Homo sapiens: one gene and its partner. The protein of the gene in region 1 binds, or shares a complex with, the protein of each later gene. Each region holds a gene or a part of one and is shown in the gene's direction. Other genes may lie near its edges.

Region 1 (7,439 bases):
CACACAGTCACAAAGGCCTCCCTGATCAAGGGAAGGACTCAACACCATGTCCTGACAGCGGGTGGCAAGGTAAGGTTCCAGATGAGGACATGGGACCAGAAATTTATTTTGTGTCCATTTTCAGAAAATGTAATCCATCATAGTAAGGAATCAAGGCAACCATTCTCCATAGCTCGTGTGTACGCATGTGTACATGTAAGTGTGCATGTGTACATGTAAGTGTGCATATGTGAGTGTCCATGTGTGCATGTGTGTGTGCATACATGTCTTGCTCCAGTTCTCTCCTCTGGTCACATGACCTTGACCTCTGCTTCATCCTCTGTCTGTGCTCATGGCCTCAGTTATTCCTGCCTTCTCAGAATCCCCCGCTTCCTTTGGGAACAGCTCCTCCACATTACTTCTTTTGAGAAACTTCCTCCCCAGGTGTTTTTGGCAGGACTGTCCCTCAAGCCACCCATCCCTCCTGGGCAGCAGAGGGGTGGCACATGACTGAAGTTGGGCCAATCCAACTCTCTCCTGAGAATCTGACTTTAGTGGAGAATCCCAGGTTCTAGACACTGGTCACAGCTCTGTCAGTCCAACTCAGCCTCTGAGGCATCCATTGCCCAGTTCTTGTTCCCAGACTAAAAGAGCCACCTTACCAGTGCCTTCTGTAGACTCTGCAAGCATCCTGCAGTCTTCCATTAAATACTGATAAATATGTGTATTTAGTTCCAATTCCACATAGAGGCTTTGCAGCCGTCTGACCTCTCCCACAATTCCAGATGGCTGGTGGCTGAGCTGGGAAGAGGGCTGAGATTCAAACCAGAAATGATCCCTACAACCTTCTCAGACAAACGGCATCATTGCAGGCTGGACAAATGCTCCAGATGGTGCCTCCTTTATACACTGCCATTTAATGTCTACAGTGTCCACACCCCCATTTTACAGAGGCAGTAACTGAAGTACAGAGAAGGCAGAGCTCAGATTTCACAAAACTCTGTCTAACCCCATAGGGTTTGCTCCTTCAGTAAACCTCAGAATCTCCTCAAAAGTCAGGTCCCCAACTGCCCTCCTGGAAAAGCAGCCCCAGCTCACTCTGAACTGGCAGTGGCTCAGATGATCCTGCTAAGGCTGAGAGACGGAAAAGAAAGTGTTTTTGGTGGCAGTACATTAGAGTCACAACTGCTTTGCTGTCACCGTAGATTGACTGGCTCCAAGTCATGCAGCCTCTCATGGCAAACAAATGCTGTTAAGATCCTGCGCCAGAGAACAACATTGACAATGAGGGAAAAGATCAATCCTCTATTTACAGACTTAAAGATCCTTAAATCAAGCCTGTCATCAGAGCTGCCAAGGACTCTGCCTGTGTGACCAGATGTGCCCTTCCTCCCTGGACGGACTCCACGCTGCACATGGGACCACTGGGCTCATCTTCAGAAGGGCCCATGCAATTTGGTGACAAATCCCACCAATTTGTCAATACACTTCTTCCAAGTTTAAAAGCCAGTCATTGGAGGGATTGTTGGCAAATAAGGAAGTTGCTATAGATGCAAAATGTCAAAGCATGATTCTGCTTTCCCAACGCTTTCTGGATGCTACTTCATGCTCGGCCCCATATGAAGCACTTAGCATGCATTGTTTCGTTCGCTCTTCACGTCAGCCCGAGGAGATGGATATGACCATTGCCCCTATTCTACAGAGGAGGCAGCTGAGCCTCAAAGAGGCTAACTCACTTGCCACAGCCACCCTGCTAATGCTTAAGCCACACTAGTCAGGTTGCAAATAACTTTATGCTTATGCCCAATTTTAAATAGTACAAAAGATAAAAGGATTTCCTGGCTCTTGAAACTGAAAAGTCCAAACTTGAGGGATGATTTGACTCCCAACATAGTCATCAAGAGCCTGATTTCTTCCCAGCTTTCCTGTCTGCCTCATCAAGGGTCTACCACTCAGGGCAGCAAGATGGCTGCAACAGTGCTATCCACACACTGTGAGTCCAGAAGGGAAGGGAGAAAAATCTCCTTCCCCAGAATCCTTCAGCAAACACCTCCAGGCTCAGTGGCCCTAATTGGGCCTCCGACCACCCTCAGCTGTGCTCAACGCATACAGTGCCAGTCGTGTGTCCTTTGGAACCAGGGATGTCTCTGACCTCCCCAAACTCCAGGATCATAGTAAGGGAGGAGACCACCCCTCATATTGTCTTATGCCCAATTTCTGCCTCCAAAGAAAAAAGTAGTAAAAACTAAAAGGCAGAAATGAAATCCACAAGCAGACAGCCCAGCGCCACACCCTGGGCCTGGTAAAGATTGACTCCTGACCTAATTGGTTGTTTGCATAAAAAAGGCACTGTGAAGATCCCTGTCCTGTCCTGTTCCGTTCTAATTACCTGTGCATGCAGCCCCAGTCACATACCCACTGCTTGCTCAATTGATCATGACCCTCTCACGTGGACCCCCTTAGAGTTGTGAGCCCTTAAAAGGGACAGGAATTGCTCACTTGGGGAGTTCGGTTGTTGGAGACGTGAGTCTTGCTGAAGTTCCCTGGCCGAATAAAGCCCTTCCTTCTTTAACTTGGTTTCTGAGGGGTTTTGTCTGCGGCTTGTCCTGCTACAAATAGGGGGAATAAAAGCCAGGGTTGCTTCCAAAGAGAGCAGGGAGTGAGTGTTGAGGACAGATCATCACAACTGTGCAGTTGAGGAGCATGATTTGAACCCAGGTTTGTCTGTTCATTCAAACAGTATTTATTGAGCCCTTGCTTTGGGTCAGGCACAATTTTATATGCTGGAGACACAAACCTAAAAGGACCCTAACCTAAAAGGCAGACCCCACAAACCTAAAAGGCAGAACAGCTGCCTTTCAAAGCTAAAGTCTCGCATTTTTAAAAGGCCTTGGAGCTGCATTAATGTTCTTCTAATTTTTCTAGGTATGAATCTTCATACTTTTCTAGGTATGAATCGACCCTGTGACACCAGGATGGTTCTTTGTCAGCCTCCTTGTCTATAAAATCAGAAATAATGGTACCTCCCCCAATAAGTTATGTGAAACAAATTAAAGGGGCTTATTATACAGGAAACAAAAGCAGCACAGCATCCAAACTACTGAGCGTGCAGTAAATCAACGCATTCCCACTTCCATTCCATCCACGCTGATTTAGATCAATCCAAGTATCACTGCCTTGGGGTTCAAAAGGCCATGTTAGTTCACAAAGCCCCGAAAATGCTCTTTCACACTCTCTGCTCAGCCTCCAACGTGTCTTTTTAATAATCCAAACTTTCCACCTACTTAACTGAAGTGTGTGGGGGGAGAGGGTGCGGGGGGGAAGGGGTGGCCTATACTAAATAGCCCAACTGTTTTCCACTTGTCCTGAAATCTGAGACCAAGATTCTCTTAGGAATGCAAGCAAAGGGAGCCGACGGGACGCCAAGAAAGCACAGGTTAAACTACCTCACTTCATCTAGCCCCATTTCTCTCCTGGCTTTTCAATTAATTATTCAGCCTCAGACCAGCAGATGGAGCTGAAAATGTTGTCTAAAGAAATGAGGTTTTTCTTTTAATTTACAAGCTATAGTTTCTCATGCCTCCACACTGAATGGTTACATCCTGTTGAGCCTGTTCGTAAAGTTCAGTAAAAATCCAGTTCTCATTCCAGAACAGCTGAATCGTAGCTATGAACGCGGAAGAACAGAGTCCCAACCCCAGCCGGGCCCGGGTTTCCCGGGGCCCCTCAAGCCTCAGGGCAGTGGAGAGCCGCCGTCACGCCCCCGCCTCCCCCACGTCCCACCCTCGCCCCAGTCTCCTCCCACTTTTAGCTACTTTTCCCATCTGACTAAAACTGGCTTCCTCCGTGTCCACCAAGATGTCGCCTCTAAGTGGCCTAACTCCTAAAGAGCGCGATCGGCTCAAGCACTCCGCCACGCGGTTTCCACGGGGCGCGGCCGGCGTTGCCCTCGCCGTGGCCTCAAGCATTGCGGCGCCCCACATGTTGCCAGACGGAAGGCCTCGGCGGGGTCAGGCAGCTGCTGCTGGCCGTGACTACATCACTGGTGACGTTTCACGAGACTTTTAACTGAAATCACTCCAATACAGGCGCATGCGGGACGAGGGGAAAGCATCTCACCCGACCCCACACACCTTCCCCTCCCTCTCCAGCCTAGCGGCCTCCGCTCAGCGGAAAAAAAAGCAGACGCTACTCCCCGCTCTAGGTGCGGGACCTAAGAGGTTTGGCCCAATCAGGCATCCCACCTAACCAGACGGGCCGGAGTCTGTGGCCCGGTTGGACCAACGAAAACTCTAGGGCGGATTTGCCGGGATTTCTGGGAAAGTGACACTCCCGGAAGCTACCGCCTCTTATAAGCCACACATGGGCGGAGTTAGCCTTCCGGCCCGCAGTCCCACTGGCTGACTTCGCTGCCCGTCACGGGAATGCGGGAGAGGGCGGCGCCGGGGCGCTCGCGTCTGCGTGGAGACCGGCTGGCCGCGCGCGGGAAGCCGCGGAACTGCGCCGGAAAGTCCCCCGGCTCTGGGGCCCCGGTGACCCAGAGTAAGCCTCCAAGAAGGAGGAGGAGGAGAGAAAGGCGGCTCTTCCCGTGCCCCTACCAGAGGCTTCGGTGGGCCCACCTTGTGACCTCCGCGGCCGGCCCCTCAGTGGAACTGCGTCCCACGCGGGGGGCGTCCCGACCGTGGGGGCCGCGGCCCGCGCTGACCCTGGACGTCGCCGCGCAGGTACGTTGCCGTCCCCCGGCGGTCTGACCCCCGAGACAGCCCCTAGTGCATACCCCACGCCCTCCTCCATTGTCGAGAATGAGACACGGCTGTGCCTTTGTCCACGTGGTAGAGTTGCCGCCGCGGTGAGGCTCTCGCCTGTGCAAAAAGCGTGGCAGCGAATTCTCATCAACGAGGGGAGGCGCGTCCCCTCACAGCGCAGCTCTCGGGTCTGAGGAGGGCCGGGCAGGGCGTGCGTCTGTCTAGGTTTGAATTAAAGGCGACTCACAGGAAATAAGGCCATGCCACTGTGGTAGCTTTTCCCGTCCATCTCCGGACACTCGACGGTGTGGGTCGTGCGAGGAGGCGGCAGTCTTCACAGCCTCTTACTCTAGTCCTCACGGTCAGGTTCTTTTTCTGATTTGACACAGACAGCGGGACTGACGACCTCATAGGTAGCTGAAAACCGTAAGTGGAGATGGTCCTTCTATGGTGTGTGGGGGCGTGGCCAGTTGTTAGATTGTGTTTGGAAAGACAGCCAGGGGCGGAGAAGAGGGGCATTTCTGAGATGATGGGGGGACTGGTGCCATGGAGGGAGGAGGAGTGAGGTGGAGATCGGGAATTCCAGCCAAAGAGAAATGGGGTCCCTGGGAGAAAATTCCCACTCTAGCAGTCCTGGAGTTGTGCTCATGGAGACTTGCTTACGCGAGTACAAGGACAGCGTTGTATTGACAAAATTTCAGCCCTCAGTCTAGTCTTGTAAACGATAGATCAGGAGTGTACTTAACCGTCGTTACTTTGATCCAGCCCTAGGTTTCCCTTTTCTCATTTGTAAAATTGTTATAGTAATACCTTTTTCATCCATTTGTGGTAACATTTAAATGAGGTAATTTGTGTGAAGCCCTTAGCAAACACAGCGCTTCTTAGTCGTGGGTTCCGCGTGGGGTGGATTCAACCAACCTCAAATCAAAAATATTCTTCAGAAAAAGAAAAATGCGTTTGTACTGAACATGTAGAGGCTTTTTTTTTCTTGTCATTATTTCCTAAACTATACAGTATAACAACTATTTACATCCCATCTACATTGTATTAGGTATTATAAGTTACCTACAGATGATGAAGGTATATAGGAGGATGCTGCGCATAGGTTATATCAAACAGTACACCATTTTATCAGGGACTTGAGCATCTGCAGGTGTTGGTATCCTCGGGGGTCCTGAATCCAGTTCCTCACAGATACCGAGGGACCACTGTACTCAGTCCAGAGTACAGTTGAGGCTTAACTATGAGGTCTGTGGAGGGCGTGGAAAGACCCACGTCTGAAATTGGCTCTTAACTGCTCATTTTTAGGACAGCTTCCCTCCCAGCCAGCCCTTTACCAGAGGCAATGCACCATCTTTGCAGCCGTTATAAGTACCTGGCTCTTTCCAGCCCTATGTGGAATGTTTTATTTATTTCATAAGCTAATCATTATAAAAAAAAAAGTCTTTTTTTTGAAATGAAAAAAAACTGTTCACTAAGTTTGTAAGTATAAACTATTTTAGTAATGTCCTCTATTTTAGTAATGTCCTCTTTTTTTTAAGTGAAATATTTTAATTATGGAGAAAAGAACATAACAGTTGTACCTGTACCCTGAAAAAAGTAAATGTCAATTTTTTAAATGCTTTTGGACTTTTTTATTTGGGGGACAATGTGACATTTCAGCTATAGTTCATATTCTGTGTCCACACACCCAAGAGCTTTGAAATCTAACATGCCTTTCTGTGGAGGCACTGTGACTCCACAGGACTTATCTGGTGGATGTTAGTACCTGTGTAAGCTGGGTGTCCTCCCTTCTAATCCCCACTCACCCAAGAGGTTTGCTGCTTCTAGCTTATCATGGGGATTATGGCTGCCATTTTGATTCTGTCCTCATGTCATTTGTGTTTCTACCCTCTTAAGAAACCTGCCTTCTCTGCCTTCCCAGTTCCTCCTGAGTGAGCTCATGATAGACTTTCCTAGACTCAGCAGCTGACGAGCATTTCATTGGTTTGGTTGGCCTTTATTGGGCCAGTGACCACTCTTCCCTTCAACATGGTCCACTGTCTTTACCAAGGGGCTGTCATGTCTGTTGCAAGCATTCAGGAAAGAGTGGCCTTCCATACTCAAATGTACTCTATTTTATAAAATGTGATTTTAAAAATTCGTGGTCCAATCAGGCCTCCTTATCCTCTGGGAATTGATTCCAGCAGCCCCCCTAGCCCCACAACAGACCAAATCTGCTGATGCTCCAAGTCCTTGATATAAAATGGCGTTAAGGCCGGGCATGGTGGCTCATGCCTGTAATCCCAGCACTTTGGGGGGCCGAGGCAGGCAGATCACCTGAGGTCAGGAGTTTGAGACCAGACTGGCCAACATGGCGAAACCCTGTCTCTATTAAAAATACAAAAGTTAGCCAGGCGTGGTGGCGGGCATCTGTATTCCCAGCTACTTGGGAGGCTGAGGCAAGAAAATCGCTTGAAGCTGGGAGGCAGGTGTTGCAGTGAGCCGAGGTCGCGCCACTGCACTCCAGCCTGGGTGATAAAGTGAGACTGTCACAAAAACAAAATGGCATAGCACAGTCAGCCCAACGTATTTGCAGGTTTCGCCCTGAGGTTGGCTGAATCTGTGGATGCAAAACCCTCAGATATGGAGTGCTGACTATAACTAAATGTTTTTAAACTAAACACTTAAGGTATACTATCTCAGTTTGCCACAGTGGTAATCCCATCTTAACAG
Region 2 (7,032 bases), on another chromosome or scaffold:
CTCGTGATGCACCCACCTCGGCCTCCCAAAGTGCTGGGATTACAGGTGTGAGCCACCACGCCCTGCCCATAATGTCATTTTCAAACTAAGAAAATTAACAGTTCTCCAACATGATCCAGTAATCAGCCCATGTTCAAGTTTCCCCATCTGATTTTTTTTTTTTTTTTTTTTTGAGACGGAGTCTCGCTCTGTCACCCAGGCTGGAGTGCAGTGGCACGATCTCGGCTCACTGCAAGCTCCACCTCCTGGGTTCAAGCCATTCTCCTGCCTCAGCCTCCCGAATAGCCGGGACTACAGGTGCCCGCCACCATGCCCGGCTAATTTTTTGTATTTTTAGTAGAGACAGTGTTTCACCATGTTAGCCTGAATGGTCTCAATCTCCTGACTTCGTGATCGGCCTGCCTCGGCCTCCCAAAGTGCTGGGATTACAGGTGTGAGCCACCATGTCCGGCCCCCATTTGATATTTAAAACAAAAGTTTTTATCTTTTTTCTTTCAATTTAAGACCCAGGAAGATTCACATTTTGTATTTGATGTGTGTCTTCAGTGGGCCTTTTGTTTTATTTTTCATGACATCAACTTGTTTTGTTCAATGTTAAATTAAATCTAACACTGATTAAATTAGTGCTGCGATGATTACATTAGTAGGCACTTGATGAGGTTATCCCTTTTATTGCTGATGTCAATTTAATCACTTGTTCAAGGTGCTAACTATCAGATTAAGCACACTCATCCCTTGGTATTGTGGGGCATTGGCTCCAAGAGCCCCAGAGGAAACCAAAATCCATGCATCCGCAAGTCCCATAAAATCTTGTCATATTTGCATGTAATCTACTCACATCCTCCAATATACTTATTTATTATTATTTTTTTAGTAGAGACAAGTGTCTTACCATGTTGTTCAAGCTGGTCTCCAACTCCTAGGCTCAAGTGATCCTCCTGCCTGGGCCTACCAAAGTGCTGGGATTACAGCCTGGCCAAAACTAGGGTCCATATACCTTTTTTTTTGGTGTTTTTTTTTTTTTTTCCCCCTGAGGCAGTCTTGCTATGTCACCCATGCTGGAGTGCAGTGGCACAATCTCACTGCAGCATCAAGCTCCTCAACCTCCTGGGTTCAAGCTATCCTCCCACCTCAGCCTCCCGAGTAGCTGGGACTGTAGGGTCACACCAGCACACCCAGCTAATTTTTGTATTTTTTGCAGAGATGGGGTTTTGCCATGTTGCCTAGGCTGGTCTCAAACTCGTGAGCTCAAGCCATCTGCCCACCTCAGCCTCCCAAAGTGCTGGGATTACTGGCCTGAGCCACCATGGTTGGCCATAGAGCTTTTTTTATCCCCTGATTTCCTGTCCGTGTCATTATGTTTTCCTTTTTCACTCAGAACCATGATTTCCTGACTGCAATGGTCTGTGAACATTTTTCCCCTTACAATAAATATAATACATACTCACCAGATAAAAATGTAAATACTGATGAGGAAAAATTGTAACTAACATTTTCGGGGCTCTTGTGGGTTAGGGACTTTATACTAACTCATTGAAGACAGACAGTAGCCTGAGAGAAGGTAGGGTTTGGGTTATCCTCATTTTGCCGGTGAGGAAAATGAAGCTTGAAGTTAGACTAACTTAGAGTCTTAAGCTAATAAATGGCAGAGTTGGTTTTCAAACCAGAAATAACTTGTTTATAGTACCCTTCCAAAGCCTTTTCTATACACAAATATATATAAGAATGGGATCATATTGTGACCATCTTTCCATGTCAATAAATGGACTTCAACAGCATTCTTTTTAATCCAGTGTCCTTTTGTTTCCTCTTCTCCCGGCCTTGTCCCCAGGATCGACGAGAACGTGCTAGGAGCCCAGCTGGACGTTGAGGCCGCCCATTCAGAGATCCTCAAGTACTTCCAGTCTGTCACCTCCAACCGGTGGCTCATGGTCAAAATCTTCCTCATCCTCATTGTCTTCTTCATCATCTTTGTGGTCTTCCTTGCTTGAACCCTCTCTACTCTGAGGCACTCTGTTGGGGTTTGGGACCCTCCTGGGAAGGCAAGTGGCCAGTGCTGCCACTGAGCCTGTGCAGGGTACTTGGGAGAAAGGCCCTGTTTCCCTGGAACTGCTAAGAATGACCACTGCCCCTGATCCCCCACCCCTTGCCTCTGGCCACCCTGTCCTCCCCCCACCACCCTCAGGCCTATGAAACACACAGGGTTCTAGATTTGAACTCTGCTGTGAAGTGACTGGAAGGGAGCAGAGGCCAGCTGGGGGCCAGTGGGGGAGGTTGTTTCCACTAGGAGATTTTTATAAACCCTCTCCAGCCTCTCCCAAAGGAAGCGTTGGCAGCAAAGGGAGATGATGCCCTTACCCACCTTCCTGTGAGTGAAGAGAGGAAGCAGCCCCAGGGACCAATTTTCCCAATTGACCTCTTTCTTCCTCTTTCACCATGTGAGGCAGGGAGCCCTGAGCCCTTCAGCTGCCTGCACAACCCCTGACATTGGCTGCTGGTGACTCAATCTGCCAAATGTGCTGCAGCTCGTTTTCTCCCAATTACAGCAAGACTGTCAGCCTCACTAGCCATGTCATCATTTCTGGGTGGGAGCGTCGAAGGGCCTAGGCAGCGAGTGGAGAGAGCCCACTGCCCAGTACCAGAACTGAAAGGGTTGGGCTAATGGCTCTGCCAGGTATCACTGCTGACACAGGCTATTTTGGGCTCTGACACACAGCTGCCTCTAGGCAGGGGAGAACCAAGTGTTGCAACACTTCATTAGCGTGGAAACTTCCTTTCACACAGGGGAGCAGGATCCCAGAGGGGGTCCCTGATTGGGGGCAACTTCCAGGACTATCTCAAGCAGTGTTTGGACCTGTTTCATCTGTATCCTCCAACTATTTGGCCGTAATTCTTCCTTGAGCTAAGCGAGGCAGAAGCTCTGCCTGCTTCCAGGAGTGGAAGGTGAAGAATTTGTTCCCAACTCCAGTTGAGGCTTTTGATTCCCTCCAAGCACTTCACCAAATCAAAGCCAGTCACAGAGAATGGAGACACCTGCCCAGAATACCCACCGTCCAGGGAGATTAGTGTGCTTTGTTCTTCCTGACCGAGACTCACAACCACATTCTGAGGTCACTCGAGTGCCCCTGTCTCATACATTCCAAAGGAAGTTGAAGCTATAGAGACAACAGTCAGGGGCTGGTGGTGGTGCTTTTGGGGGTCTAGGAGAGCCCAAGGCCCTGATATTTTAAAATGTCCTCCTCGGCATCTCCAGCAAGTTGCCACTGCTGGTGAGCTTCACTGTCTGCCCCGTTGACACGATGGGTTTCTAGTAGGGGACGCCATTGATGGAAGGTCTGTGAAGACAATGCTCGCCAAACCCCTGACAGATGTCGTATCATTTGACTCAGCAACTCAGGGCGGGGCGGGGTGGGGGAAATTCATAACACAAATTCATTTATTTCACAAATATATGTTGAGTTTTTACCATGTGCCAGGCATAGTACCTGCCGAGTCAAGCCCTCGAGGAAAAAAAGCCCTTAATTAGTCAACGTTCGAGCTCACATTCTAATTCTCAACTTCGTGATTTGTTAATCCATCTTATAGGCGAAGAAAGCGAGGTATAGACAAGGAGCCGAGCTGAAACACTGGCTAGATTCCGGTAGGGGTCTGAGCCATCACTCCCACCTGGAGGCGCGGTCTCCATTCCTCTGAAGCCCTTTGTGCGGCCCCCTTCCTCACTGAGTTCTGGGCTGCGGCGGCAGCACTGTGCTCTAGCACTAACTCTGAAGCTGCCAGGGCAGCGTCAGCGGACAGATGAAAAGGTGCGGGGACATGCTGGCTGCCAGCCGGGGTTCCGCAAGTTCAGGTCTTGGGCGGGGCGTGGAGGGCCAGGCCCCGCCCCTCGAACGACGGCCTTAAGTGTGCGCACGCGCAGGGGGCCGCGCTTTCTCCGGGCGGCGGCACCGCCCACAGCCTGGGACGTCAGCGGCGCGCGACGTGCTTTGCTGTATAAATGCGGTGGCGCCCGGCGTAGGGACACTTCGGTCCTGAGCGCTTGGGAGTTAGGTTGTTTGCCGGCGTAGCGGCCAGCGCCTGAGCCCGCCCTTGATCTTCGCTGTGGCATGGCGGACGAGGGGAAGTCGTACAGCGGTAAGTGCTGGTCTTCGGGTCGGGAACTGGCTATCTGGGGCGCGGGTGGGCGGCGCCGGCCTAGGCCTCAGCCCCCGGGGCGTGAGGCCGCTAGGGGCCCGGCGTCCGCGGGGAGCGGCGCGCGGGGGGCCGGGCACTCGAGGTGGACACCCGAGTTGTTGACTCCTGGATTCCTGCTGGCATCCTGGTGTTGGGGGACCTGCGGCTCGGAGCGGATGGCTCGGGGGTAGGGTGACGGGATTCCTTTGAACTTTGTGGGTGGTTGATGCCTGTCAGTTAGGTTTGGCGGCCTGACTCTTCCTTTAATGTGAGTGAGTGCCCTGCTCGTGGGCTGCCCTGATGCCCTATTTTTTACTGCGTCCAGTCGGTCTTGAACTCTCGGGCCTGGGCTTTGGCTTAATATTCGAGACTTACACATCAACTGGATATTCTAGTCTGAACACTACACTGGGTGTTAGTTCTTTGTAGTAAGTTAGGAGTGCGTGGTGGAGGTTGAAACCGTGAATTTAAAACTCTCGTTTTCCACCCCCTTAATGTGGAATAACAACAGCATTTCTTAAGAGTGTGTGTGGGGAGGGGAAATGAGATCATTCCTATCAAGTGCCTGAAGCATAGTGGCCGGCACTGGAGAAAGTTCTCAGTGAATGTTAGCTGCGCCTTCTATGTTCTTTTTTCCTAGGGTCATTTGTTGAGATTCATTGTTTACAGAGTGCTGGGTATTAGGCAGACCTCTTTTGGGAGTTAGGGACCTTTTTTAAGACGCCAGTCCTACACAGCATGAATCAGAAGGTCATCTTCCTGGAGAGCATTCCAGGGTCCCTGGTTAAGCACCCTAGCCTGGCACTGCCACTAGAGCCTGAGTCTAGAATTTGTCTCCTGAGTTAAAGGACATTTCTGGCCATGGAAACGAAGAGCTCCTCACAAAACTTCAAAGTGGCAGTTTGAGAACAAGGAGAATTTTTAGAGGATCCTTAAACTGGTCATATTTGTAACTGGCGTCTGCACTGTATAGACAAAGTACTGAGTGGCAGATTTCAGGTGGCTTTCAGAGGTCTGATTTGTGTTCAGTTACACTTTTGGGTCTCACATTTCTACATCCTGCTTCTCTCTAATTCCAGTTTCTACTTCATTTTTCAAAAGCCCTACACAGTTTTCCAGTAACTTTTCCCTGATGCTGCCCTCCCACAGAGAGGGTTCTTTCCTGTGGATAGGGAGCGGAGTTTGCATGGAGATGGCCTCTGTCGTTAGTATGTATCTCTTCCAATAGTTCAGAGTACTAGAAGCTATGATTGCCACACCAAACCGGACCAGTTACTTACTTCTAATTTGTGTTCCTGTTTCTAACTCTAGAACACGATGATGAACGCGTTAATTTCCCTCAAAGAAAGAAGAAAGGCCGGGGTCCCTTCCGGTGGAAATATGGTGAAGGAAACCGTAGGTCTGGAAGAGGCGGTTCTGGTATTCGGTCTTCCCGCCTTGAGGAAGATGATGGAGATGTGGCAATGAGTGATGCCCAGGATGGTCCCCGAGTACGATAGTGAGTGACCAGTTGGTCTGGTTTGAATTTAGTGGCTCATGAGATTATATGGCCCTTTTACTGTCCATGTCATTTCCTTTCCCACCTGTTAGAGTGAGAAATGCCAGGACTAGCTTAGTGATTAAACAGTCTTAGTTGTAGTCCCACTAACAGTGCAGGAAGGCCTTTGAGAAGACTTTCCTAGCATTTGTGGTCATTTTATTCTCTGCTTACCCACAGCAACCCCTATACCACCCGACCTAACCGTCGGGGTGATACTTGGCATGATCGAGATCGCATTCATGTTACTGTGCGGAGAGACAGAGCTCCTCCAGAGAGAGGAGGGGCTGGCACCAGCCAGGATGGGACCTCAAAGAACTGGTTCAAGATTACAGTGAGTACTTTGAGAAAGTAGATGGTACAGTAGAGATAGGAGGCCACGCTGAGAGTGGAGATGTTTAATTTTATTCCACAAAAATTATTATTATTATTTTTTTTAAATGGAGTCTTGCTCTGTCACCCAGGCTGGAGTACAGTGGCGTGATCTCGGCTCACTGCAGCCTCCGCCTCCCGGGTTCAAGCTATTCTGCCTCAGTCTCCCGAGTAGCTGGGACTACAGACACCCACCACCACGCCCGGCTAATTTTTGTATTTTTAGTAGAGACGGGGTTTCACTGTATTGGCCAGGCTGGTCTCGAACTCCTGACGTCATGATCTGCCCGCCTTGGCCCCCCAAAGTGCTGGGATTATAGGCATGAGCCACCGCACCCAGCCCAAAAATTCTCCTTGTCATCTGATTACTCCACACTCAAGTATCTATCTTTTCTCCTAGGAATCAGTATCTTCCAACACCTTAGAGCAGGTTCAGAGAAGGGGTGGAAGAGAAATATGAAAATTTTGGTTGGGGGAGGGAGTAATTCCTCTGGATGTCTTCATTTGGCTCAGGCTGAGTGTGGGGCTTGGAGTCCCTGGAGTGCCCTGGAGTTCTCTGAGGGGCAGGCAAGGTGTAAATAATATCTTGGAACTTTTAGAATAAATAAAATTGATTTTTTTTTGAGAGATTATAAGTGTAAATGGGCTGGGTACAGTGGCTCATGCCTGTAATCCCAGCACTTTGAGAGGCCGAGGTGGAGGATCACTTGAGGCTGGGAGTTCAAGACCAGTCTGGGAAATACAGCAAGACCCCTTCTCTACAGAAAATTTTAAAATTAGCCGGGCATGGTAGTACATGCCTGTAGTCCTAGCTACTCCAGAAAGCTGAGACAGGAGGATCGCTTGAGCCTAGGAAATGAAGGCTGCAGTGAGCTATGATCGCACCACTGCACTCCAGCCTGAGTGACAGAGTGAGGCCCTGTTACTAAGAAAAAATAGTAAGTGTAAGTAGA

The links.
Region 2: the proteins of NXT1 (region 1) and NXF1 are in contact, whole or in part, in a crystal structure (PDB 4WYK), measured with the Homo sapiens proteins. Residues at the interface, in NP_037380.1 of Homo sapiens: Phe6, Lys7, Val10, Asp11, Cys14, Glu18, Thr44, Val46, Trp47, Asn48, Gly49, Asn50, Ala51, Phe61, Met64, Leu65, Pro66, Ile72, Ser73, Val74, Val75, Asp76, Cys77, Gln78, Pro79, Val80, His81, Glu83, Ala84, Thr85; in NP_006353.2 of Homo sapiens: Ala366, Pro367, Thr368, Thr369, Leu370, Pro371, Pro372, Cys373, Lys374, Gly375, Tyr377, His411, Gly413, Cys415, Cys416, Ser417, Leu418, Ser419, Ile420, Pro421, Phe422, Arg440, Asn441, Val442, Lys443, Lys444, Lys446, Pro448, Thr449, Arg451.

What each region holds. Positions count from the first base shown.
Region 1 is NC_000020.11:23,346,359-23,353,797, forward strand, and holds the start of NXT1 (NTF2-related export protein 1), read left to right. Parts: upstream 1-4,432; 5' UTR 4,433-4,703; intron 4,704-4,971; exon of another isoform or gene 4,972-5,109; intron 5,110-7,439.
Region 2 is NC_000011.10:62,802,428-62,809,459, reverse strand, and holds the start of NXF1 (nuclear RNA export factor 1), read left to right. Parts: upstream 1-4,019; 5' UTR 4,020-4,103; coding exon 4,104-4,131; intron 4,132-4,370; exon of another isoform or gene 4,371-5,302; coding exon of another isoform or gene 5,303-5,378; intron 5,379-5,481; coding exon 5,482-5,668; intron 5,669-5,887; coding exon 5,888-6,041; intron 6,042-7,032. Other genes in the region: STX5 (syntaxin-5), read left to right, coding at 1,832-1,991.